Regions from separate parts of the Homo sapiens genome. Here regions 1, 2, 3 and 4 are each reported to be linked to region 5. Evidence: microRNA targets listed by miRTarBase, many of them from high-throughput screens and not tested one by one. Region 5 holds a microRNA gene; each other region holds the end of a gene's coding sequence.

Region 1 (5,102 bases), not on the chromosome of region 5:
GGTGGAGAGAGTTCTGAATACCGCGGAGAAACCGAGTGGGGGAGCTGCAGGTCGGTCGGTGTACCGGGGTGGGGCGGCAGGAGAGGCCTCAGGACCTCCGAGGCTGACTCTTGTTACCTCCACCCCCAGATCTCCCACACCTTCACCGACTACGGGCCGGGCGTCCGCTTCGTCCGCTTCGAGCACGGGGGGCAGGACTCCGTCTACTGGAAGGGCTGGTTCGGGGCCCGGGTGACCAACAGCAGCGTGTGGGTAGAACCCTGAGCGACCCTGCCTCCACTCTCCCCCAGCTGCCTGGAGGGGCAAAGGTCGAGGGTAGATAGGCCTTAACTTAGTCCATAGCGTCCTCACCTTCCCCAAGCCACACATCCTCCTCCCATCCCTTGCTCCGATCCCAGCCCCTGAGCAGGGAGAGAGAAGTTTTGTTGGCATAGGTTTGCTTAGGTAGCCGGCTTCTAGAATGTAGATCCGTGAGGGCGTGAGCTTGGACTGGACCCACTGCTGATTCCCTGCACCTAGCACAGTGCTTGCCACAAAGTGGGCTCTCAATAAATATTATTTGTCCAAGGAAGGAATGAATGAAAAAATGGATAAACACTGCTCCCTTCCCATCCTTTTCTGTCTCCTGAGGGCCCCCGGCATAGCCTGGAAAAATACTTGGTAGGGCTCCAGCTGCTCTGGTTTCCAGCGGACCTTGGGCCAGTATGGAGTCAGCTGGGCCCGGCCTTGCCAGGGAGGACAAAGCTGGGATTGTGAGACCAAGGAAGGTTGAGCTGAGCCTGGCGCCTGACCGACACCCAAGCTGCCCAGAGGCCAGAATAGGGCATGTTGGCGGGGGGGCTGCCCTCCAGGCCTCTCTTGGTCCAGTGAGTATCCTAAGCCTTGCTATGACCCCCCATCCTTTACTAAAGGCAGAGTGGGGTTGGGGGTGTACCAGTTCTCAGGGCCCGGGTGACCAATAGCAGCATGTGGGTAGAGCCCTGAGCGGCCCTGCTTCCACCCTCCCCCAGCTGCTTGGAAGGGTAGAGGCTGGGAGTAGATAGGCCTTAACTTAGTCCATAGCGTCCTCACCTTCCCCAAACCTCCACAGCCCTTCATCAAGCTGGGCCCCTAGGGCAAGGTGTCAGTTCCTTTGTCTGATTGGCAACTGGGGTGGGTGTGGACTGTGCTAGGGTCTAGGGTACCAGTTCTCTTGGGCCCAGGGATGGAGGTGAGGGGCCTGGGGTAGGGGATGGGAGGTGGGGATGGGGAAGCACAAAAAGGATTGGTTTGGGGTTTCTCTTAGTTCGTGCCCACCCCCTGGAGTCATTAGCATCTGGTCTCATTGGCCCTTTTCCAAACCTGGCCCAGAGGTTGGCCCAGGCTTTGGCCTGGGGGAGGGGAGGTGGGGAGGGTCTTGTGCCAGACTCTGTGCTCCGGCACGCTCCTTCCGGCCGACCCAGCCCCTTCCAAAGACTGTCAGCTGCTGGTCCTAGGGGTGGGCATTTGAAGGGCCTGGAACCCTCTGCCCTCCTCTCCTGAAATGGAGACCAGTAAAATCACCGAGAGTCTCCAGCTTTGCCTCGGTTCTGAACCCTGATGCTACCTGCTGTTCTGGTGGGATTGCAGGGTTCAAGCTGGGGCCTGCCTGCAATTGTTTATTCATTCACTAGTTCATTTATTTACAATTCCCAGAGCCCCAACCCCAGGCCAGGTCATGTGTGGGGGCCCTGAAGTTACGGTGGGGAATAAGAGACTCCTTCCCAGGAAGAATCAGCAGCCTGGCCACATGAAGGGTGGGACCCAAGGGGAGGGGGAGCCAGTGTCCTGGGCCCTCCAGTGCAGTGGTGGAGATGCAGCCCCTGCTCTGGGGGCATCCTCAGTCTGACAAGGGAGACAAAACCTTGACTTCAGAAAACTCTCAGTTTCAAGGGAGAGGCATAACCTCTTCCATAAGGATGCCCTCCGTCCTGTCTGGGGGATTTCAGTCTGCTGGGGAAGGCACAGTCCATGTTCACCCGAGCTGCCAATCAGACAAAGGAACTGATGCCTTGCCCTCAGGGTCCAGCTTGATGAAGGGCTATGGAGGAACAGGCTCACCCCATGAGCTCCCATGCTTAGGGGTGGGAGACTAAGGGTGGGCATGTGGGGAGCCAGGTTAAGAGGAGATGGGGTGAGTGGAGAAAGGACCGGAGCCTGCACTGGGCTATGGGAGGAAACTGAAGATGGAGACAGGTCATGGGCATGAGGGGCCAGGAGGCCAGGTAGGGCCTGGCCCTTCAAGGACTGGAGGTCAGCATAGGAATGTGGGGGGTGTGGAATGTGCTGCAGGTGGAGGGGAGCGCCCCTGAGTTTCAGGTGCGCATGGGACGTTCGGGAAAGAGGCCCATAAAGAGTGTGGGGCCCTGGGCTGCCGATGCAGGTATAGGAGTTGCAGTGTCTGTGGCCAGCAACCAAAGCCAAGGGCGGGAACAGGTGCAGAGTGAGGCAGGAGAGGCCTCTGGGCTCACGACAGACCGGACTGACCGGGGACAGGGAAAGCAGGGCAGCCAGGAAGGCAGGGAGATGGGTGGGAGGAAGGTGCAAGACCAGAAGGCCACCTGCAGCCAAGAGCCTGAGGAAGGAGCCAGAAGCCCTGCCCAGAAGCCCAGAGGCTCTGAGCCTGCTGTGGTCTCTCCCCAGAGCATGGGGCCCTCAGAGGAGACCGGAGGGGCCTCAGGCTCACTCTTGCTGTCACTAGAGGGACATCGGGTACACCAGTGGTGTTTAGGTCAGGAAGATAAGACAACTGCTTCTCAGCCTTCAAAGGGCTGTGTGAGGTGGGCCAGAAGGCTCACTGGGCATAGGGCACGTCCTATCACACCACCCTACAGTCCAGTCAGGTGGGACAGGGGAGAGGGCATGGTCATCCCTTTTACGGTTTTCTGGCAAGTGACACAGAGTAACTGGAGAAGCAGAAGCTCCCATCCAGGCACATCTGGCTCTTAAGTGAGTGCTCTTAACTCCTCTCAGCATTACTGTCCCCTACCCTGGAGGACAGAGCTGGACCCACGTGTAAACGTTATAGGATGGCATATACCAGCTGCCTGTAAGGAAAAACCTGTGTGGCGTCCAGCAGGGGGCACCCCAGGGCTGTCTCTAGGACAGTGGGGACAGTTGAAGCGAGAGACAGCAGATAGGGCTTTCATGTCTCCTATGATCCTATTTTTTATTTAAAATTTAAAAAAAAAATTTTAGAGACACGGTCTCACTCTGTCACCCAGGCTGGAGTGCAGTGGTGTGATCATGGCTCACTGCAGCCTCAATTTTCTGGGCTCAAGCGATCCTTCCACCTCAGCCTCCTGAGTAGCTGGGATTGCAGGCACGTGCCACCACACCAGGCTAATTTTTATTTTTTATAGAGATAGGGTCTTGCCATGTTGGTCAGGCAGGTCACAAACTCCTGACCTCAAGCAATCCTCCTGCCTCGGCCTCCCAAAGTGCTGGGATTATAGACGTGAGCCACCGTGCCTGGCCAGTTCTTCCTAATCATTTGATATTTATTGAGCACCTACTATATGTAAGGTAGGGACAAAACAAAGTCTCTGGTCTCTTGGAATATACAGTCTAGATGGAGAAACATAACACAAGCAACTAAATGAGTGAACAAGATAATTACCCACATGAGATAGCCCTTCATCAATAAGCCAGGCACTACTCTAAAAGCTTTATCTATATTAATTTGTCATAATAACCTCACGAAGTGGAAACTGTGATTACTTCCATTTTTACAGATGAGAAAATTGGGCCAGGTGCAGTGGTTCACACCTGTAATCCCAGCACTTTGGGAGGCCAAGGTGGGTGGATCACCAGAGGTCAAGAGTTCGAGACCAGCCTGACCAACATGGTGAAACCCTGTCTCTACTAAAAATACACAAAAATTAGCCTGGGTAAGAAGAGCCAAACTCAGTCTCAAAAAAAAAAAAAAAAAAAAAAAAAGAAAGAAAAGAAAAATAAAATTGAAGCACAGAGAGATTAAGCAACTTGCCTTAGGCCATACTGCTAAGAAGTGATGGAACTGGAATTCTTTTTTTTTTTTTTTTTTTTTTTTTTGGTACGGAGTCTTGCTTTGTCTCCCAGGCTGGAGTGCAGAGGCGTGATCTCAGCTCACTGCAACCTCTGCCTCCCGGGTTCAAGCAATTCTCCTGCCTCAGCCTCCCGAGTAGCTGGGATTACAGGCGCCCGCCACCACACCTGGCTAAGCTTTTTTTTGTATTTTTAATAGAGATGGGGTTTTACCATGTTGGTCAGACTGGTTTTGAACTCCTGACCTCAAGTGATCCACCTGACTTGGCCTCCCACAGCGCTAGGATTACAGGCATGAGCCATCACGCCAGGCGGGAACTGGAATTCTACTCAGCCACTTAGGCACTTGGCCTCTGTAGTGTAGAGAGTGAGGGCAGGAGTGCTACTTTGGTTGGGGTGATCAGGGAGGACCTGTCTGAAGAAGTGACTTTTTTTTTTTTTTTTTGAGATGGAGTCTCACTCTGTTGCCCAGGCTGGAGTGCAATGGTGCTATCTCAGCTTACTGCAAACTCCACTTTCCGCATTCAAGCGATTCTTGTGTCTCGGCCTCCCGAGTAGCTGGGATTACAGGCGTGCACCACCATGCCCAGCTAATTTTTTTTTTTTTTTAATAGAGACAGGGTCTCACCATGTTGGCCAGGCTGGTCTTGAACTCCTGGCCTCAAGTGATCCACCTGCCTTGGCCTCCCAAAGTGTTGGGATTGCAGGCATGAGCCACGGCGCCTGGCTGGAAGTGACACTTGAATCACATGATGACGAGAAACCAGCCATACGGCTCTGGGGAAAGAGCACTGCAGAGGCAGCCAAAGGCTCCGACATGGGAATGAACTTATTCACAGGTCAGAAAGGCAGCCAGCATGGCTGGAGCAGTGAGCAAGTGAGGAGGTGATCTGACGTGAGCTTGGAGATGTAGGAAGGTGACCCAGAGAGTTTCCTGAGGACCTACTATGTGCTCTGCCCTATAAGATATAAATGCTCTAGGAAGCAGATATGATATCGTTTCCATTAAGGAAAAACCTTTGCTCTGTTCAGCAGGAGCTAGGGATGGGGGTTTAGAC
Region 2 (5,104 bases), not on the chromosome of region 5:
AGGAAAGTGAGGGAGGAGATAGATATTCCCTTATGATTCTGAAAAACACGATTCGTAAGTCTAAAACAATATAAAACATCATATTTAAGTTGAAAAAAATAAAAGGGATATCATAGCATATATTGTAATACAGTGCAAGAAGAATTTCATATAATAAATCCATGTTTTATCAAAAGAAACTTTTCCAAAAATAGTCACATAAATAATCTCAGAAATTCTGATCGCATATTACCACTAGGAAGATGGACATTTGGCTATACTGATTTAGTAAGTAAAAAACTAAAACCAGTATCACTATTTTTAGGAGCAAACTAAATGGCATGCATAAATATAAAAATGAATCCAAATATTTAAAATAATGATTAAATAAAAGTGAAGAACAATTAGAATAGGGTGGTAAAAATAAGTTGCACTGATAGAAGCAACTAGCTAGCTACAAACATGGAGGAATCTGGGCATACAAATAACAGGAATCAACAATATGGCATTGCCATTTTAAAAGAAATGATATTGTAATAGATAAATGCAAATGATCTAAGGCTAAGATAAGTTAATATTTGAAGTCCCCTATATAGGCCAAAACAAAGGGTCACAATCATCCTAATCTTGCTTCTAAGTCCTTGAATATAGCCAGCTCTTAATAAAAATGTATTGGCTAAATGACGACCATTAAATAAGAACCCGGAGCCATCAAGTAGTTAGGGATCTCCACAGCCAAAACATAAACCTGAATGCAAAGGATGTGTCATGGGGTATCACCTTAGTCAAGATCTTTCATGTAAAAATTGTGTAGGAAATACTTCAACTCCTAAAGTAGTCCATATAACCCCAAATCAGAAAACTCTTGTATCACAGAGGTTAAGGGAAATCAAAGTATTGATGAAATAAATGGCAATTTTAACAGATAAATGTAAATCTGAGTGTCTACTACCCAAATGGAAAGTAGCTGAACCATACAGCCATGATCTTTCCACAGAGAAAATGGTAGTTCTTATATCTTGATACATGGACATAGTAAGAAGTAGGTCTACTAAGGAAAAATTGGGAGTTAAAATTATTTAACTGGAAAAGCTAAGGATAAGAATGTGTTAATCTTTAACATATGGAACATGATTGTGAGCCAGCTTTTCCTAGTTACTACCGTAGACTGTGGGGGGTCAGGCTGCCTGAATATTTCATAAAGTTATCAAACACATTTGCAGAATCCAAAGAGCTTTTGTATGAGCTAGAATACTGTCATTCCATCTGACAGACCACATTAGAATATTTGATAGGTTAAAAAAATGGAAGTGGTACAAACTAAGAAAATGCTAAAGTTCTGTTCATTTAGAACAGACTTAAGAGAGGAACCTAACAGTACAGCTCCACACTGAACTGTTTTCTCTTATTCTTACTAATGGTATCTAAGCTTTGGTTTACTCATTAGTTCAGTATGTTAATGCTAAAGTTAGTAATCCCTTAGACTTTAGTTTCCAGCTTTAACTTTTAAGACTAATTGTTTTTATTGTGCATATGTAAAATGGGATGCCTGTGAATTTAAAAAATTATTTTCATTTCTAAAAACATTAATAATCAACACGGTGATCAATACTGGGACAGAATACAGTGGGATTTTAAAAAAAAACACAATAATATTGAAACACTTCTAATGATAAGAGTGACTTCCAATAAAATCTAACATAACTTTATAAGGGGCCATTCCAGTTCTTAAAACTCTAATTAGACATAAAGCAAAATATTATTTAAAATTCCATTTTCTGACAGGATCAGAGTAAAAAAATCACTATGTGTCCTTGAGAACAGAAATAATAAAGTGACAGTTAAATATTACTATCAACAAAAAAATCTAGCTTTTACTATTTTTATAGATTTATCACTTATTTAAGTTAAAAATTAGTAAGAAGACTTGAAAAAGGCAATTTCTAGATTTATAGTAACTGTTCTATAATACAGCTTCAAAATAAGAACATGTACTTACATAAATATACTTAGCATACAGTTCTTTAAAGAATGTTGAAATGTTAATAGTGAGATCAATCAATGACAAGAAACTGTATCTTCCTCAGGAAAAAGAAACTAACCACTATACAATAAAGGCAATGACTGGAAACCCTAAATTACGTTTTGTTGTCAACAAAGTCAATTTAATTTAATAATTTAACTTTTCCACAGAATTAATCACTATTACTTCCATACCAAAGAGGTATCGGGGAAAGAGTAGATCTATGAGGATTTAAAATTATTTCCTATCTACTTCTTACTTTTAAGTTGTGGTGATTCATGGCTGTGATAAAGATTGTAATTTTCAAGAAACATACAAAAAATCCATGTTAAATAACAACAGTGGACCTTGAAGGCATGAGCTTTTGTCACTTTATTGTTAACCAATGAATATTATCCAAAATTAGAGATGTAATTGTAACTTAATTGTACAACACAAAATTATGCTAATGGTAAAAGCCTACTGGGATTTACCAAATACTCATTAGTGTATTTTTACATTGACTATATGAACATGTGCTCGCGACTGCTAATAAGTTATAATTGGTTTAATCTCTAAGAAATCCATATTGCAAATGGTTCTTGTTTAGAAAAATTCACACAGCCTTAAAAATGGATTAAATCCATTTTAATCCTAATCTACAAATAGATCATAAACAGCAAAATATAACTGATAATTTTTCAATACTGTATCAAACTGATGTAGCTATGGTAGTGCACATAATTCAAAATGAGGAAAATTAACAAAAATCCAATGAAAGTTCAGGTTTTTATCTATTATGCAATTGCTTTAAAGTGAACATTTATGTCTCAAAACATGAATAGTAGGGTCCACCATCCATTCCTTTGATGTACTGCAAGTAGGAATATTCTCTTCCATAGGATTCTGAAGCATGTGCACAACCATGGTACAACAGTCACTTCAAGGTTAACCAGCTATGTTTTGTCCTACAAAGTTCAAAAAATATATTAAACGCAACCTTTCTTTTACATAATGTCTGCCCAGATTAATCCTTTTAAAGTCAGCAAAATCAAAAAAGCACAAGAGATATTTTCAGACACAACTTGAATCTACTGTGCATGAAAATGTTTAATAAAATGGCAATTTTAATAGATAAATGTAAATTTGACTGTGTAATACCAAATGGAAAGTAGCTGAACCACACAGAGAAAACAAGGCTTTACGTATCTCCAAATTTAGCTGTTTTACAATAAACAAAGTATTAGAACATGTGAATATTAGAACCTCCTTCTAACTGGAAAGATTTCTTCAGTAAGCTATAACCGAAATTAATATAAACTAAAATTATAATTTCTAAAATAAGAATTAACAAACCAAATTTAAGTATTTTTAGTCAGAGATTGAAACAAAATAAGCACAGTGATCTAGAAACCAAATATACTGATTATGTAACTATCGTATCAAGGTACAGACATTCTTCACATGCTACAAGGTTAGCATTTCTCTCTCTCATACACACACAGAGTACACACACACACACACACACACACACACACAGTCTCTCTCTCATTCTCTCTCTCTCTTGCTCAGCCATACAACACCCCTCCAGGATGATAGTATACCAGTGAGGAGCTTACAATTTTAATACAAATCAGAATCCCACAGTTTGACTCGACAAAAAGGCAGTTAAAAATTTAGCACTCTTAAGATATTCTGAAGGAAAATGAAATTTCGAAAGTATTTCTTGATGATCGAGGCTATGGTTATGAATTATAAAACATATACCTTACACACTCCATTGTGTTTGAACAACCAGTCATCACAGATGTAGTAGTGAGGTAGTATTGTTGTCCCCTCCTCGGGACTGATGTTTTTATATGCTGCCCTTCCAGAAAAGGTCCAGGTTTTAAAAAATAACATTAGTTACCAACAAATGTATATTTTCTTTTTTTAACTAATCATTTGTTTTTCTAAATCAGTCTATAAAAGAACAAAACTTTTAAAATCTTGCAGAGGCTGTTTCATCAGTAAACTCTCCTAGGGAGCTACTACTGCTGTCTAAACCTCTGTGAAATGGTAGGCAAAAAAAGCCATCAAAGGATCACAGGAGATAAAACACCAATCAGTGTAAGCTGTTAAAGATGACTGTGATTAAATAACCAAATATCAAATATCCAATAAGGTAATTAAATTTAGATTAAAAAAAAACTAAGCACCAGCTGTACATACATTATTAAATGTTCTAATCTCTTTCCTGATTCATAGCCATATTCTACATGATGATCAAAGACTGTCCACTGTGCTACCTACCATCATTTTAAACACTGCCTGATCTGTATGATGGTGGAATTATGGCTATGGACATGGCAGATAAGAGAAGGGCACACTGAGAAAATGTGAGTGAGAGAGAATGTGGAAATAGGTTAAATATGGAAAGGGCAAGGGAAACCCATTAAAATGTTCACCATTATCCTTTAAAATGTACACAGAACTGAAACCACACATACACATTTGTCAGACGTGATAATTAGTGTTAATCTTCAACAGAAAAAAAAAAGAAAAAGAAAAAAAATGTGAAAAGAGGCAATGGAACACCATTCTCCATTCCCTGGACCAAAAGAAAAAAGAAAACCAAGCATGATATCATACTGCCTTAATGTTGAAGAGCTCCCCTTAAATTTGTCTTTTAGCTAGCACAGTCAAACTGGTGTAAGTGCTTTGGCAAGGTGGGATGCATTCCATCATATCTGCAAAGGCCTGCTTTTCTCTGTTGGTGGTTCAGCTTATGAAGAACATATATGCAAAATAACAGCTCTCACATTGCTTCAAACTCATCGATACGCTGCTTTGTATTGCCTTGTCGAATCTGTCGCAGAGTCTTGTACTTATCACGGCCTGCTTTAACATTCTCAGCATGAAGAACATCATTTTGTGTTTTCTTGGTTTCATCTCTGGCTTGGGCTAATTCTGAACTTAATGCCTATTTAAAAAATAAAAAGTACAACTATTATTTTTTTCTTAGATTTAAAAAAATTTATGAAAATGGCTTTAAGATGCAAAAATACATATACCAAATCATTTCCACTGTGAAACCTTTTTCTTTAGGTATAAGTTTGTTTTAGTAATAGTGGTGGCAGTGGT
Region 3 (5,101 bases), not on the chromosome of region 5:
TAAGCCCTCCATTGGTGAGAACCGATTCTTATGAATCAGCCCCGCCCCGCAAACGGCGCGGGGCGGTGAACGCAGAAGCCACCGGCTCTGGAAGCTGGAGGGCGGAGCCGGCTCACAGCCGAGAGAGAAAGCCGCAGTTGAGCATCGCCGGGGGATTTTCCTCCGCCGTCTTCTCTTCCACCCCGCTCTCTTCATGTCCCGTAGCTCCCAGCTCCGCAGCTGTTCGAGACTCCGCACTGGATCCGCCGGGTGTCGGATTCAGCAACAGTGATTGGTGCGGAGGATCCGAGGGAGACGGGCCGACACAGGGTCTACCTTGACATGGCTCGACCCCTCTACAGAAGCAGAGGGGCGCTCGAAGAGTCGCCAGGGAAAATGGAGCCTTAAGGATTAGTTTGGGTAGTGAGGAAAGAGGAAAGAGCTGTCGGAGCCTGTTTCATTTTTCCCGCTTTGCGACAAGGTCTAGAGAGAGTTACAATTTTATTTGAAACAGTAAATAGACACATTAATGTGACCTGATAGCGTGCACCATCAGTATATGATAAAATTAGGAGAAATTAGGAAGCATGGTAAAACATGTGTCAGGATGGCCGAGCGGTCTAAGGCGCTGCGTTCAGGTCGCAGTCTCCCCTGGAGGCGTGGGTTCGAATCCCACTCCTGACAATATGTGTTTTCCGTCCTTACTTTTCCTCCTGATTTGAACCAACCAGCAATTATGTTTGAATTCTTAGAGAAAGACTTTTCGATCGGTCAACACTGCCTTTTATCCTAGGTATCTACATTTACGAAAATTATTTGTGCTTCTCTGCACATATAGAACTATATCTATTTTTCCTGTATTGTAGGCTGGAGTCTGGTCTATGAAATCAGGGAGCAGTTGAGACTAAGATTAACTTTGGACTCCAACTTCCCAGTGTCAATTTATCCATTCTTTTATTCAACAACAATGTGTTGAGCCCTTTCTGTGCGTCAAGCACACTAAGGCAGGCAGATACCATCTCCTTTGACTAAACAAGAGAACGCCCTCAACTCAGGATCCTTTAATTTGCTCTACAGTCTTAGCTGGGTTTTTTTTTTTAACGCTAACGCAGTAGTGTCAAACTTTGGTAAGGATCAGGTTCTCCCACCGCCTTGCCCCGCTCCCCAGCCTTTTTTTTTTTTTTTTTTTTTTTAGACAGGGTCTCACTCTGTACCCCAGGCTGAAGCACAGTGGCTCAATCTTGGCTCACTGCAGCCTCCGTCTTCCCGGTCCACGCGGTTCTCGTGCCTCAGCCTCCCAAGTACCCGGGGTTCGCGCCTGTAGTCCCAGCTACTCCGGGAGCCTGAGGCGAATCTCTTGAGCCCAGGGGGCAGAGGTTTTTGTGAGCCGAGATCGGCTGACTCCAGGCTGCACTCCAGCCTGGCGTACAGAGTGAGACCCTGTGTCCAAAAAAAAAAAAAGTAACATGAATAAAATCTACAGTTAGTCATTAATGTTATACCAATGCCAATTTCTTAGGTTTGATAAATATAACATGGTTATGTAAGGTTTTAACATTAGGGGAAGTAGAAAGGATATAGAGTAATGACTTTATGTAGTATCTTTGCAACTTGTCTGTTCATCTAAAATTATTGCAAAATCAAAAATTCTTTTAAAAAACCAACAACTTGAAAGTGGTTGCCTGTGAGGAGTAGGACCTGGGAAGGGGGCAAGAAACTGCTTGTACCAAGAATTGATTTTTTTAATAATGGGCATGTGTTCTGATTTAATTTGTTCAAACTTTTTTCCCCCCCTTTGGAACTGGGTGACATAGTTGTGATTACAATAATCAAACTAAGACTACATACAATATAAGGATTTTTAGATACCTAGTATACAAGAAACAGTCCCCAAAGAAACTAAACCAAAATGATCAACAGACGTTTAAAAGTAAATAAAGTTTGTTTATATTTCTCTATAGAAAAATAGATTGCACTCAAATGGGAGGATCTGAGATGTCACAACTAAACACGATAAAAATCTTTCTTCTTATATTCTGTGTGTGTTGGGTTTTTTAAAAGGATAAAAGGCATACTATCAAAATACTAAGAAACTATAAAAAAGTGAGTACTATCAATCCTCTTGAGAAGTTCAAACAGGTTGAGGGGGGTCAATGTTGAGAATTGAGATGAGATTCAGGAAAGGAAGAATGTAATGCAGGATGTACGTGTTACTCCATCTCTCTCTCTCTTTTTTTTTTTTTTCAGGTTCCTTCCATGTGAAGCCAGGCTGCGTAAGACTTGGGCCAGGGCCAGGAAAAGAGGGCAGTTAAAAATGTGAAATGACAGCCAGGGACAAGTGAGTTGTTAGTGTAACCTTCTCTCCGTCTTTAAAAAATCAACCTAAGAAATATAATGTATAATGTAGCATTGTTCTAGCCAAGCTCTCCCATAATTTCTGAGATAAAAATAAATCTCCCAATGCCCATAGGGCAAATATACTCTGGATTGGATTGACTGGGAACTAACACAAGTTTATCCTTTTGATTATTTTGTTTACACCAACAAAGCAAAGGCAAATATCCTTGCTTTTATATTGTCATTGACTCAACTGGCAGTAAAGTTGTGCCTAAGGATATTTTGCAGATTCCGTCACTTGCTATAAAAAACACACAACTAGCTAGGCGTGGTGGCTCACACCTGTAATCCCAGCACTTTGGGAGGCTGAGGTGGGCAGATCACCTGAGGTCACGAGTCTGAGACCAGCTTGACCAACATGGTGAAACCCCATCTCTACTAAAAATACAAAACTTAGCTGGGTGTGATGGCAGGCAACTGTAATCCCAGCTACTGGGGAGGCTGAGGCAGGAGAATCGGTTGAACCCGGGAGGCAGAGGTTGCAGTGAGTTGAGATCGCACCTTTGCACTCCAGCTTAGGCGACAGAGCAAGACTCTGTCTCTGCAAGTATACAATAAAATGCACACTTTTTCTCACGGGGCTCAGCATCCAGCTGTGTTTCAAAGGAATAATATGACCAATTTCAAAACATCTAGGGGAAGGTCTGGTAATAAGTGGAGTTATGGCCTATTTGTAAGGTGGCATGCTGAGGCTCTAGACTCAGGCAGGACAGGGTTCTTCATTCCAGCCTTCCTGTCCCCACTTTATAGCTTTGTGTCTTTGAATAAATTGTTTAACCTCTTTGAACCTCATAATGCTCATCTTCAAAAAGAAGATAGTATTCCATAATGCTGCTGTGAAGATTAAGTTAGATTGTGTATGTCAAGTACCTGATACATAGTTATCACCCAACTAACAATTAATAGTAATTGCTAATGTTTGTTGATAGTATATTATACACCTTTCTTCTTTGCCTCTTACATATATTAATTAATTGAACCCTCACAACAGTCTGGAGGTTGGTACTGTTATCATCATCATCATCCCCACTGCAGGGAAGGGGAAACTGAAGCTTGGAGAGTTTAATTTGCACAGTATATAAAGTGGCAGGGCTGAAAATCTATAGAGTCTTGTTCCAACATCCTCATTATGCCATGGGCAGAAACCACATGGGATCATACTATTTCTCTGACATAGATAAAGTCAATAGTAACTTTAATCGTACCACCAGATCTACTTCCTCTGACATATACCATCCTCCAGAGTCCAGGACTCAGAGTCTTTTCTCTAAAAGAACAATGGATAAAGTGACATGATTACAAACAGCTAATAAGCATGTAAACTATTTGTTAGTGTTATTAAAACAGCTAGACTGACAAACTCAACCAGGTTCCTATGACAAAAATACAGAATTTGAATCATAGGATCACACATGGAAACACTGCCAGTACTTAAGTTTCTCTTCATTCTCTGCTTTTCCAATTCCACATCTCTCCCTCTCTCTTCCTGCATTGTAAGTCTCAATCCTCTCCTCTTTACCAGCCCTAACTCTTCAGTACTGTTCCAATGTATTGGCCTCAAATTCTTTTCCAAATCCTGCCTTCCCCTATAGGAATCATGTACACGGTCTCAGGAATATTCTTCACATTCCTCCTTCAGCACCCACCCCAACATTTTCTGCTTCTGAAAGCCTTTGGGTACTTTTGTACTTCGATTGGTTGGAATGAAAAACAAGAAGGAGTTTTAAAAGCTTATTTAGGTCTATAACTATATTTTACATAACAAAATTCATACATGCAAGTAACAAAGTACACAAAATATAGGTGAAAGCAATGTTAAAGTGCCACACAAGTTTTAATAAATTAATGACTTTTTATTTGAAGCAGAAGAGGATGAACCGCCCTCCCCGCAAAAAGTCAAAAGACTTCAGTTATCCTGGGAAGAAAGTTCTAGCTTTGGAGGGAAAGTTCATCTCTGAAGGGCAGGATCATAGAAGACAGTCTAGAAGGCCCATAGCATAGCCCTGACAGTCACAGCTGACTTATCACGAAGGGCCATTCAATCAACCTCCTCAATGATGGGGCCGGTGCTGGGGTCCCCCTGGCGGGCTTGAGTGCCACAACTGCTGCCCCCAGGGACACCAGGCCCCCCATAGAGCCTGGAGAAGATGGGGCGACAGATTTGCTCCAGCTCCCTCTTCTGATGCTCATACTCCTCCTTCTCTGCCAGCTGGTTGTGCTCCAGCCAGGCAAGGACTTCCCGACACTTGTCTTGCATTTTGCGCCTGTCCTCTTCGGGAATCTTGTCCCTAAGGCTTTCCTCTTGCAAAGAACCTTTCACATGGAAGACATGGGCCTCCAGCGAGTTTTTGGCAGCCACTCTGTCCCTCTGGGCCTCATCCTCAGCCTTGTACTGCTCGGCTTCATGAACCATCCTCTCCACCTCCTCCTTGCTCAGCCGGCCCTTGTCATTGGTGATGGTGATCTTGTTAGCCTTACCTGTGCTCCTGTCAGTGGCTGTCACGCTCAGGATGCCATTAGCATCAATGTCAAAAGTCACCTCTATCTGGGGGACTCCACGTGGGGCAGGAGGGATGCCACTGAGTTCAAAACGCCCCAGCAGGTTGTTGTCCTTGGTCATGGCCCTCTCACCCTCATACACCTGGATGAAGACCCCAGGCTGGTTGTCCGAGTAGGTGGTGAAAGTCTGGGTCTGCTTGGTGGGGATAGTGGCGTTCCTCTGGAT
Region 4 (5,104 bases), not on the chromosome of region 5:
ACATGTTTTTGGTATGAATAAAAAAGGTCCTGAATGAGAAAATAAGAGGTGGGTGTGAAAGTGGGAGGAATGCTTTCCTGGCCTAGTGATGACTGATAACAGAATGAGGCAGGAGCGAAGGGGTGAGCAGTGGGTGCTGAGGGAAAGGTTGAATGCAGTCATCAGAGATGACTCTTTGCTTTCAAGCCTGGGTTAATGTATTTGTTCCTTCTCACACTGCTAATAAAGACACACCCAAGACTGGTTAATTTATAAAGGAAGGAGGTTTAATTGACTCACAGTTCAGCAGGGCTGATGAGGCCTCAGGAAACTTAAATCATGGTGGAAGGGGAAGCAAACATATCCTCTTTCACAGGATGATAGGAAGGAGAAATGCCAAGCAAAAGGCAGAAAAGCCTCTTATAAAACCATCACATCTCATGAGAACTCACTCACTATCATGAGAACAGCAGCATGGGGGTAACTGCCCACATGATTCAATTACCTCCCACTGGGTCCCTCCCACAACACGTGGAGATTATGGGAACTACAATTCAAGATGAGATTTGGATGGGGACACAGCCAAACCATATAATTTCACCCCTGGCTCCTCCCAAATCTCATGTCCTTACATTTCAAAATACAATCATGCCTTTCCAACAGTCCCCCAAAGTCTTAACTCATTCCAGCATTAACCCAAAAGTCCCAAGTCCAAAGTCTCATCTGAGACAAGGCAAGCACCTTCCGCCTATGAGCCTGTAAAATCAAAAGAAAGTTAGTAACTTCCTAGATACAATGGGGGTACAGGCATTGGGTAAATATACCCATTCCAAATGGGAGAAATTTGCCAAAACAAAGGGGCTACAGGCCCCATGCAAGTCCAAAATCCAGTGGGGCAGTGAAATCTTAAAGCTCCAAAATGATCTCTCTTTTGTCTCCATCTCTCACATCCAGGTCATGCTGATGCAAGAGGTGGGCTCCCATGGCCTTGGGCAGCTTGGCCTCTTTGGCTTTGCAGGGTACAGCCCCCTCCTGACTTCCTTCATGGGTTGGCATTGAGTGTCGGTGACTTTTCCAGGCGCATGGTTGGTGGACCTACAATTCTGGGGTCTGGATGATGGTGGCCCTCTTCTCATAGCTCCACTAGGCAGTGCCCCAGTGGGGACTCTGTGTGGGGGCTCCAACCCCACATTTCCCTGCTGCACTGCCCTTGCAGAGGTTCTCCATGAGAGCTCTACCCCTGCAGCAAACTTCTGCCTGGACATCCAGGTGTTCCCATACATCCTCTGAAATCTACGGGGATGTTCCCAAACCTCAATTCTTGACTTGTGTGCACCTGCAGGTTCACTGTGCTGAAGCTGCCAAGCCTTGGGGCTTGCACCCTCTGAAGCCATGACCTGAACTGTATCTTGGCCTCTTTTAGCCATGGCTGGGATGCAGGGCACCAAGTCCCAAAACTGCACAAAGCAGCAAGGCCTCGGGCCTGGCCAGGAAACCGTTTTTCCCTCCTAGGCCTCTTGGCCTGTGATGAGAAGGGCTGCTGTAAAGAGTTCTGACATGGCCTGGAGACATTTTCCCATTATCTTGGCAATTAACATTTGGCTCCTTGTTACTTATGCAAATTTCTGCAGCTGGCTTGAATTTCTCCTCAGAAAATGGGTTTTCTTTTCTATCACATTGTCAGGCTGCAAATTTTCCAAACTTTTAAACATAAGTTCCAATTCCAAACCATATTTTTGGGAATACATAAAACTGAATGCTTTTAACAGCACGAAAGTTACATCTTGAATGCTTTGCTGCTTAGAAATTTCTTCCACCAGATACCCTAAATCATCTCTCTCAAGTTCAAAGTCCCACAAATCTCTAGGGCAGGGGCAAAATGCCACCAGTGTCTTTGCTAAAACATAGCAAGAGTCACCTTTATTCCAGTTCCCAACAAGTTCCTCTTCTCTATCTGAGACCACCTCAGCCTGTATTTCATTGTCCATATTACTATCAGCATTTTGGTCAAAGCCATTCAACAAGGCTCTGGGAAGTTCCAAACTTTCCTACATCTTCCTGTCTTCTTCTGAGCCCTCCAAACTGTTCCAACCTCTGCCTGTTACAAAGCTCTGCCACTTACAAAGTTAACAATGTTGGGTAAATTACTCTGACTTATCTCTGTGTTTATATTTTCTCATCAGCATAATGGGCATAATATTCCATTACCTACGTCACAGGGTCATTGTGAGGATTAAATAGGATAATGAGTTTAAAGGTTTAGATGAGTGACGGGTATATGGTAAATGTGAAATAATGTTAGCTAGTACTATTCTGCCTAATGACCTCTTTCAACCTTCTTTTTCTTTCCCCTAGTCTTAGAATACAGCAGTTCAGAGAATTTAATATACAAAGGAGGGATGTTCTCACCAAAGGGCATGTTAATATTTCATTCAATCTTTAAACAGATATGTTTTGAGAGAACAAAAAAGAATTCTGAAAAGAATACATGATAGCAGAAATAAAAATACAACAGAAGTTAGAAGATAAAGTTGAGGGAATCTTTAAGAAATACAACAAAAGACAAAAAGATGGACAATAGAATAGACAACTATCTTAGTTGTCTGAGGATCCATTGGAGAGAAATTAAACACATTCCTGCCCTCACAGAGTCTAGGTAATTTTCTTTTTTCCAGAGTTTTCCTGGCTCCTCTCACATGCTGTATGTGTATATATGCATTTATTTTATAATCATGGTGTTTTCAAGGAATATTTTTACATTAAGCTTTTGTTTAATGTACATGTAAGTACATAATTAAAAAATTACACACTACAGGTTACAAACTCAAAAGTAAGCTTCCCTTCCTTATTCCAGATTTCTTAGTTGTCCTCAAAAACAACCATTCTTACTTGATTTTTTATGACTTATTACTGAGATAAACATATAGAAGTATACAAGCCTCCTTTCTCAAATAATGGTAGGGAAAAGGGAGGAGGAGAAGATACAGGATGCGTGAGAGGCTTCTAGCCATAGAGATGTAAAGAGAAAGGAAGTACATTCAGAGGACAGAGCAGGGAACATCAGACCACAAGGGTTGAGTAGTACTCTTGAAGCCAAAGCAGAAAATGTAGACTTTTAAATGAATGTAACAAGCATTTATTAAAAACTGTGCTGCACAAAACATGTTAGAAACTAGCCAGGTGCTAGGAGTCTAATCAAGGCAGGGGCAGGGTAAAAACATGGGAATATTACATGGACAAGCTTGTCTAGCATGGCAGTCTATAACCCTTGAGGGTTTACATAAAATAAAGGAACATTTTTGTGGCTCAGGCTCCCCAGAGTTCTCTTTATGTTTGGGCAGAGACTGCCCCATCCCTTAGTGATCCCACCTTAGAGCCAGGTTTTCAAAGTCATTTCTCCCAGTATATCTGTCTCTGTATGCAAGTTTCCTCTGGTTGCCTTGAGCAAAAACAATCATCCAACTCAAATTTGCTAGCCCTATGCTGGGCCAGCCCACGTTCCCGTAGGACATCTGTAGGCTAAGTAAGCCCCGGGTGATCTGTGTCTTGGTCTTCCTAATTCCGTTGCAGCTCTTCCTCTCTCAGCCAGGAGTGGAAAGTCCTAAGCCTCCTTCCATTCATCCCATTATCAAGGTGATGGCTCTCCCTCCCCAGCTCTGCTTCCAGGAAGATGACATCCCAATAACTTGGGTATCACCAAAACCCCTCCCTGACCACCAGGGAAACTGCTGTCTGTCTTATGTCCATTTGGACAGACTATCCATCTGTTGCTTGTTTCAAGACTTGTTGATGGGGTGGACAGACCAGACATTTCATGTATTTCTGTGGATCAAGATCTCTCTTTTTTCTCTCTCTCTCTCTTTTGAGTATTGTGATCTCTTTTGGTTCTTTCACAGCTTCCCCAGGCCATCTCACTAGTCAGTTCTTCAAGAGAAACAGGGTTCACAAGCTCTGGCATTTTCCTGTTTATTCAGTTCTCTCCACTATGGCTTGTTGGGTGGGGCAAGCCTCCTCAATATTAGCAACAGCCCAGATAGAAGTGGCTCCAGGTTCTATCTCTGCCTCTCCTAATTTCCCCAAATTTAGGTTGGTCTGCTCATTGTTGCCTGTACCCTAGGCCACCGTTTTCCTTACTGACCCTGACAGAGGGATGAGAACTCCTTAGCAGGGGTAGACTTTTCTCTAGAGCATAGTAATCACACTATTACAGTACATAGATCTCTATGTTTCAAGATATTAACACTATAAGGTCATAAATACATAAGTCCCACCCAGACTGAGGAGGTAGTTGTTTAGTCACAGGTACACACAAAATTCAGTGGGGCACCAGCTTAGAATTCTGGGCAGATAAAAGGCAGTTTTCCAGAAATTGAGAGGTCTATTTAAAAAAAAAACACAATCTATGAAATTAAGAGAAGAATCTGATCTGGAGGAGGTATTGGTCCTAAATTTTATTTCCAGGTCATGAGCCATTAAGCTGGGCTTGGCCCATAAGTGTGCTCTGAAGTGAAAAGAAGCAGTAAGAGAATTAAAGTCTCCTCTTGGCATACGGAGCAGAGCTGGAGTTACAGGGAGGCTATTCCACTTAGAGGGAGTCCTGGAGCCCCCTTATTACTCATGGTAATGTCTTTTTGCCTTCTGGAAGAAATCAAAAAGGTTGCCCAGGAACTTACAAAGGAAAGGGTAGAAAAAATGAATACTTGTATGGGCTTTACTCTTTAATTAAAAACATGTATCACTTTTGTCGCATGAAGATGTCTTCGAACTTTTAAAAACACGCTGGGCTTCATCAGATCTTTCAGGTATATGGATTTTTTCTCTGGAGAAATAGAAGAAAAGATTAGGTGATATTTCACATTTGAGCTACTTTCTTTTTCTAGATTTCAATGATAGGGCAGAATAGAGGTTGCCATTGGAACAGCAATGAGGAGAAACAAACTATTGAAGAGAAAGGTGGAGAAAGCAAGAGAAAAGAACCACGGTCTACACTGTCATCTATGCTTCAAGAGCTACCCTTTATTTCTGCCTGGCCCTTCCCATGCCCTCTGCCGGTTCTCTGCTGCCTGCCCTCTGCAGGCTCTTCCAGACCATTTCTGAAACTGAGTGTGACAGGGTAGGCAGGATT
Region 5 (5,104 bases):
TTTTTGTAAAGATAAAGTCAGTGTTATGTCTTCTTTGCCAAAAAGTCTATTCAGGCTCTTTGCCCAATTTTGGTTCGGTTACTAGTTTCTCTTTTGTTTAGTTTTTTTGCTAGTTACTAGTGTTAGTAGCTTGTGCCTTTTGGAAAACAAGGTCTTATCAGCTGTATGTTTCCCTAAACTTTCTTCTCATCTTTGCGATGCTGTTTGTTCGTTTCTTCTCTGCCCCCTCCTCTCCCCACGACAGAGTCTTGCTCTGTCACTCAGGCTGGAGTGCAGTAGCATGATCTCAGCTCACTGCAACTTCCGCCTCCCAGGTTCAAGCAATTCTCCGGCCTCAGCCTCTTGAGTAGCTGGGATTACAGGCACGCACCACCGTGCCCAGCTAATTTTTGTATTACTAGAGACGGGGTTTCACCATGTTGGCCAGGCTGGTGTCAAACTCCTGACCTCGTGAGCCACCATGCCTAGTCTAAGATGCCTTCTCTTTGGGTTCGTTTGTTCTGTCCTGTGCAGCAGCTCTAATGTTGTACTTAGTCTCTCATGTTTATATTTGCATTTGTTGCCAGTGATTTCAGTGTTCCATCCAAAAAAAGAGATTGTTAAGCCATTTTATTGTCTATGCGTATTTTCCCCCTAATTTTTCCTTTTCTTTTTGCGACCTGTGTGCACAGTGTCAAGTTTCCCCCAAATATATGCTTATCCCATGTTTTTTCCTTGGAGTGTTTTGCTTTCAGGATTGAATTTAACTGTTCGATTTATTTTTTGTAGATTTTTGTGTATTGGGCAGCATAGGGGTGCTATTTCAATCTTTTGCACATGACTACCCAGTTTTCTCAACTGGTGTGCCTTGGTGTGCTTTTGAAAAATGTGTGCCCTAAATATAATTTTGGGTTGATTACTTGGCTCCCTCATTTTGTCCATTCGGTTGTCTTTCTATATTTATGCCAGTCAGTGATTGCCTGGATGACTGTAGGTTTTGTTTTATCTATCTATCTATCTATCTATCTATCTATCTATCTATCTATCTATCTATCTATAATATATCCTAATCCTATTATTATTATTATTTGAGACAGGTTATTGCTCTGTCACCCAGGCTGGAGTTCAGCAGTGCGATCTTGGCTCATTGCAGCCTTGAACCTCCCGGGCTCAAGTGATCCTCCCTCCTCAACCTCCCAAGTAGCTGGGACTACAGGTGCGCATCCCCATGCCCCACTAATTTTTTTGTACTTTCTGTAGAGGTAGGGTTTTGCCATGCTGCCCAGGCTTCTCTCGAACTCCCAGGCTCAAGTGATCTGCCTGCCTTAGCCTCCCAAAGTGCTGTGATTACAGGCGGGAGCCACTGTGCCCAGGGCAACCCTGTTTTTTTTTTTTTTTTTTTAAATCAACTTTTATTTTGATTAAATTGCAGCTTAGTTACATGTGAACCTTTGATGACACTGAGGCTTGTGGCCACTGACCCCGTCACCCAGGCAGTGAGCAAAGTGCCCGTCAGGTGGTTCTTCCGCCCACACTCCCTTTCTGCCTCCTTTTTTCCATCTGATAGTCCCCAGTGTCTATTGTTTCCATCTTTATGTTCGAGTGTATTCACTGTTTAGCTCCCACTCATAAGTGAGAACATGCAGTATTTGGTTTTCTGTTCTTGCCTTGGTTTGCTAAACATAATAATCCCCAGGTCTATCCATGCTGCTTAGGACATGATTGTGTGTTTTACTTATGGCTGCGTAGTATTTTTTGGTGTGTATGCGCCACATTAAAAAATCAAATCCACTGTTGCTGGTCATCTAGGATGCTTCCACATCTTTGTTCTTGTGAATGGCACGACCATGAATGCACGAGAGCATGTGTCTTTTTGATAGAAGGATTTATTGTCTTTTGGGTAGATACTAAGTAGTGGAATTGCTGGGTCTGATGGTAGTTCTGTTTTAAGTTCTTTGAGAATCTCTACACTGCTTTCCACAGTGTGAACCTGTTTTCACGTTCCCCAAGGTAGGAGCGTTCCCTTTCCTTTCCTGCCTCGCCAGCATGTTGTTTTGCTTTTGGAAAAATGGCCATTCTGACCAGCGTGAGATGGTATCTCATTGTGTTTGTGAGTTGCATTTCACTGATGATTAGTGAGGTAGTGCATTTTTTCATGTCAGTTGGTCACTTGAACGTCTTCTTTTTCTTTATTTTTATTTTTTATTTTTTGAGACAGTGTCTCACTCTGTTGCCCAGACTGGAGTGCAGTGGCGTGATCTTGGCTCACTGCAACCTCCGCCTCCCAGGTTCAAGTGATTCTTCTGCCTCAGCCTCCTGAGTAGCTGGGATTACAGGTGCCTGCCACTATGCCTAGCTAATTTTTGTGTATTTTAGTAGAGACGGGGTTTCACCATGTTGGCCAGGCTGGTCTTGAAGTCCTGACCTCGTGATTTGCCCGCCTCGGCCTCTCAAAGTGCTGGGATTAAAGGCATGAGCCACCATGCCTGACCAATTTTTTGTATTTTTAGTAGAGATAGAGTTTCACTGGTCTCGAACTCCTGATCTCAGGTGATCTGCCCACCTCAGCTTCCCAGAGTGCTGGGATTATAGGCATAAGCCACAGTGCCCAGCCCCTTGACAACTGTTTTGTAAGGAACCATTGCCTGAAGTAGAATTGCTGGATCAAGACTACTTTTCCAAAAGAGGATAATAAACATGATCTCCTCTTTTGTTAATGACTTAGATCATTCCTCTGAAAAGCCATTATTGCACATTGCTGAAATGTTCGCCTCTGCACTGGTTGGTCCCAGAATGCTAATCATTTTGAGATTTGTGCCTTCTTTCTTCTATTTTCTGCTTTCTTCTATTAGCCATGCCCGACCTGAAAGCCATCCCTTCCTCTTTAATGTACTATTTTTCTTCTAATGTGGATCTACAAAAACAGAGTTTGGGCAGAGTCTAACAACAGGAACAAGAGAAGAAACAGATCCAAAGAGAGGGGCTTTGGGCCCAGAGATGTTCTAGAGTCAGTTCTCAGTGGTGAAGGCTGACTGTGCATCTCTCTTCCTAACTTCACTTGCAGCCGTGTCGTATTGATAGCTTGAAATCTGCCACAGTGGGAGCATTTACACCATGGAAATTGGCAAACGCTGCAAATCAAGAGTGTTAATTTTCGTTTTGTTTTTTGAGAGTTGGCTATTAACTTACCAGCATACTATTGGCTTTAGTGCATGGCGTCTATATATTGGTATTTGTTGCTGGGCCGTTATTTAGACTGCCTTCTTATTTCTTAACTGTGTTCCAGGTGGGTAAAGGCAGCATAGCACTGAGTTCTAGATAACTGAGGGGATTTTGCACTTGGATTTGCTGTGCTAAGGTTTGGGTGGGGCTATTACATCTTGCCGGGCTGGGCAAGAGTGAACCCTAGGGGTCAACATCAGTAGCCAGGATTCTGCCATAGGAAGCTTGGAGTGGAACTGACCTGCCCCCTTTCTCTCTGACTCCATGGCAGCTGGGTGAGCTATGAACAGGCCAACTGCAAGGGCGAGCAGTTTGTGTTTGAGAAGGGCGAGTACGCCCACTGGGACTGGTGGACCAGCAGCCAGAGGACAGACTCAGCAGCCTGAGGCCCATCAAAGTGGTGAGCCCCCTGCCATCATCCTACTTTCTCTCTCTGCCACCTTGGAGCAGGAGGTCCTGGGACCAGGAAGGAGCCCGCCCCTCTAGCATTGTGCCCCTTCTGATTGGTGAGGAACCTCCTCACTGGGTGACCTTGCAAAAGTCATTTTACTTCCCTGAGCCTCAGTTTCTTCATCTGTAAAATGGGCATATTGGTATCTACTGTCCTGAGGTTCCAATGTGCTTATTAGCTTGAGGGTTGTCACACTGCAACTCCAGAAGGCTCCAATCACAAGACTATGAAATGCTCCAGAGGGCACTATTCACATTCTATTTTAGGTGGTTGGTGCCCGCCCCCCGCGCCCAAGGGTTGGGCAACTCCCGTCATTGCTCAATAACCAATAGCCATCAGAAATACTACAAGAAATTATGAGTTTGGGGCTGGAGGAGAAGGTGGTTTAGCTCTTCTTCAAGACTCGTGCCAGTGTGAGTTTTCAGTGCTTCTGAGATCCTGATTCTTACTAGTGTGTGAGAGTGTCAACTCTCAGGAAGGGGACAGGGCCCATCACTGCTCAGTTACACTCTCAAACCCTCCAAGCCCAGTCTAGCTCCTCCCAGGACCTACTGGAAGGTTGGAGAACACTGGACTTTGCACCCCACAGACCTGGGTTCCCAAGTTGGCTGTGCTGCTCCCAGCTGTGTGGCCTTGAGCACGTCATTTGACCTCTCTGTGCCGCACTTTCCTCATCTGCTAAATGGCATAAGAGGATTTTATGTCTGAGGGATAAGGGTTTTATGTGTAAAGGATGAGATGAGATAACTAAGGAAAATGTCATAGGGACAGGAGGATGGGAAGAGATGTAGAAATGAAGAAAAATCAAAGTATCTCAGGTGCCTATTAGAGGCACAGTTAGCCTGTGCATGTGTGTGTGTACATGTGTGGGTGTGCATGTGTGTGCACGTGTGTGTGTGCAAGTGTGCACGTGTGTGCACACATGTGTGGGTGTGCATGTGTGTGTACATGTGTGGGTGTGCACGTGTGCGCGCGCGTGTGTGTGTGCAAGTGTGCGTGTGTGCCTGTATGTGTGCACGCTTGTGTGGGTGTGCGTGTGTGTGTATGTGTGGGTGTTCATATGTGGGTGGGTAGGTAGATCGTAGCCACCATTTATAAAAGAGAAACTTGAGGAGGAAAAAATGACATTTCAGAATCAAACATTCCCCAAAGTGTTGCAGAGTGTCTGTTACATGAAAATGGCCCAGTAGAAACTTAACAAACGGCTGTGATCCAACAGCAGTGGTCATAGACACGTAGTGGGTGCATTGGGAAGAGAGTGATGTGTGGGACATGCTGATCCCAACTCTGGGGCATGAGCATGGGGTGGGAAGGCCAACCCTGGGCCCCCTCACCCATACTCACTTCCCCCCATCCTCTGCCAATAGGACAGCCAAGAGCACAAGATCATCCTCTATGAAAACCCCAACTTCACCGGGAAGAAGATGGAAATCATAGATGACGATGTACCCA

Evidence for each region. Region 5 holds the annotated microRNA hsa-miR-6817-3p (UCUCUCUGACUCCAUGGCA, at 3,453-3,471, shown strand). A microRNA usually pairs through its seed, bases 2 to 8, with sites in the 3' UTR of a target mRNA and lowers its output. Matches are read on the target gene's strand: a 7mer-m8 pairs with bases 2 to 8, a 7mer-A1 pairs with bases 2 to 7 and ends in A, and an 8mer does both.
Region 1: the mRNA of FBXO2 is a reported target of hsa-miR-6817-3p. Seed matches in the 3' UTR shown: 7mer-A1 at 412-418.
Region 2: miRTarBase lists RDX as a target of hsa-miR-6817-3p. Seed matches in the 3' UTR shown: 7mer-A1 at 3,540-3,546, 7mer-A1 at 3,538-3,544, 7mer-A1 at 3,536-3,542, 7mer-A1 at 3,534-3,540, 7mer-A1 at 3,524-3,530, 7mer-A1 at 3,522-3,528 and 2 more.
Region 3: the mRNA of HSPA6 is a reported target of hsa-miR-6817-3p. The part of its 3' UTR that is shown has no 7-base or 8-base seed match.
Region 4: miRTarBase lists CD86 as a target of hsa-miR-6817-3p. Seed matches in the 3' UTR shown: 7mer-A1 at 3,834-3,840, 7mer-A1 at 3,832-3,838, 7mer-A1 at 3,830-3,836, 7mer-A1 at 3,828-3,834, 7mer-A1 at 3,826-3,832 and 7mer-A1 at 3,815-3,821.

Annotation. Positions count from the first base shown.
Region 1 is chr1:11,643,856-11,648,957 of GRCh38, reverse strand. It overlaps FBXO2 (F-box protein 2), which reads left to right. Exons shown (of 6, transcript NM_012168.6): 6 at 130-571. The coding sequence ends at 264. Among named protein-coding and RNA genes, the nearest start is that of FBXO2, 8.0 kb to the left of the region's middle.
Region 2 is chr11:110,227,091-110,232,194 of GRCh38, forward strand. It overlaps RDX (radixin), which reads right to left. Exons shown (of 14, transcript NM_002906.4): 14 at 2,351-4,943. The coding sequence ends at 4,779. Among named protein-coding and RNA genes, the nearest start is that of RDX, 67 kb to the right of the region's middle.
Region 3 is chr1:161,525,904-161,531,004 of GRCh38, reverse strand. It overlaps HSPA6 (heat shock protein family A (Hsp70) member 6), which reads right to left. Exons shown (of 1, transcript NM_002155.5): 1 at 4,111-5,101. The coding sequence ends at 4,415. TRL-CAG1-6 (tRNA-Leu (anticodon CAG) 1-6) reads left to right here and starts at 581; the gene lies at 581-663.
Region 4 is chr3:122,119,132-122,124,235 of GRCh38, reverse strand. It overlaps CD86 (CD86 molecule), which reads right to left. Exons shown (of 7, transcript NM_175862.5): 7 at 3,100-4,798. The coding sequence ends at 4,702. Among named protein-coding and RNA genes, the nearest start is that of CASR, 62 kb to the left of the region's middle.
Region 5 is chr22:25,452,240-25,457,343 of GRCh38, forward strand. It overlaps MIR6817 (microRNA 6817), which reads left to right and starts at 3,407; the gene lies at 3,407-3,472. It also overlaps the pseudogene CRYBB2P1. RefSeq lists an enhancer at 3,474-3,577.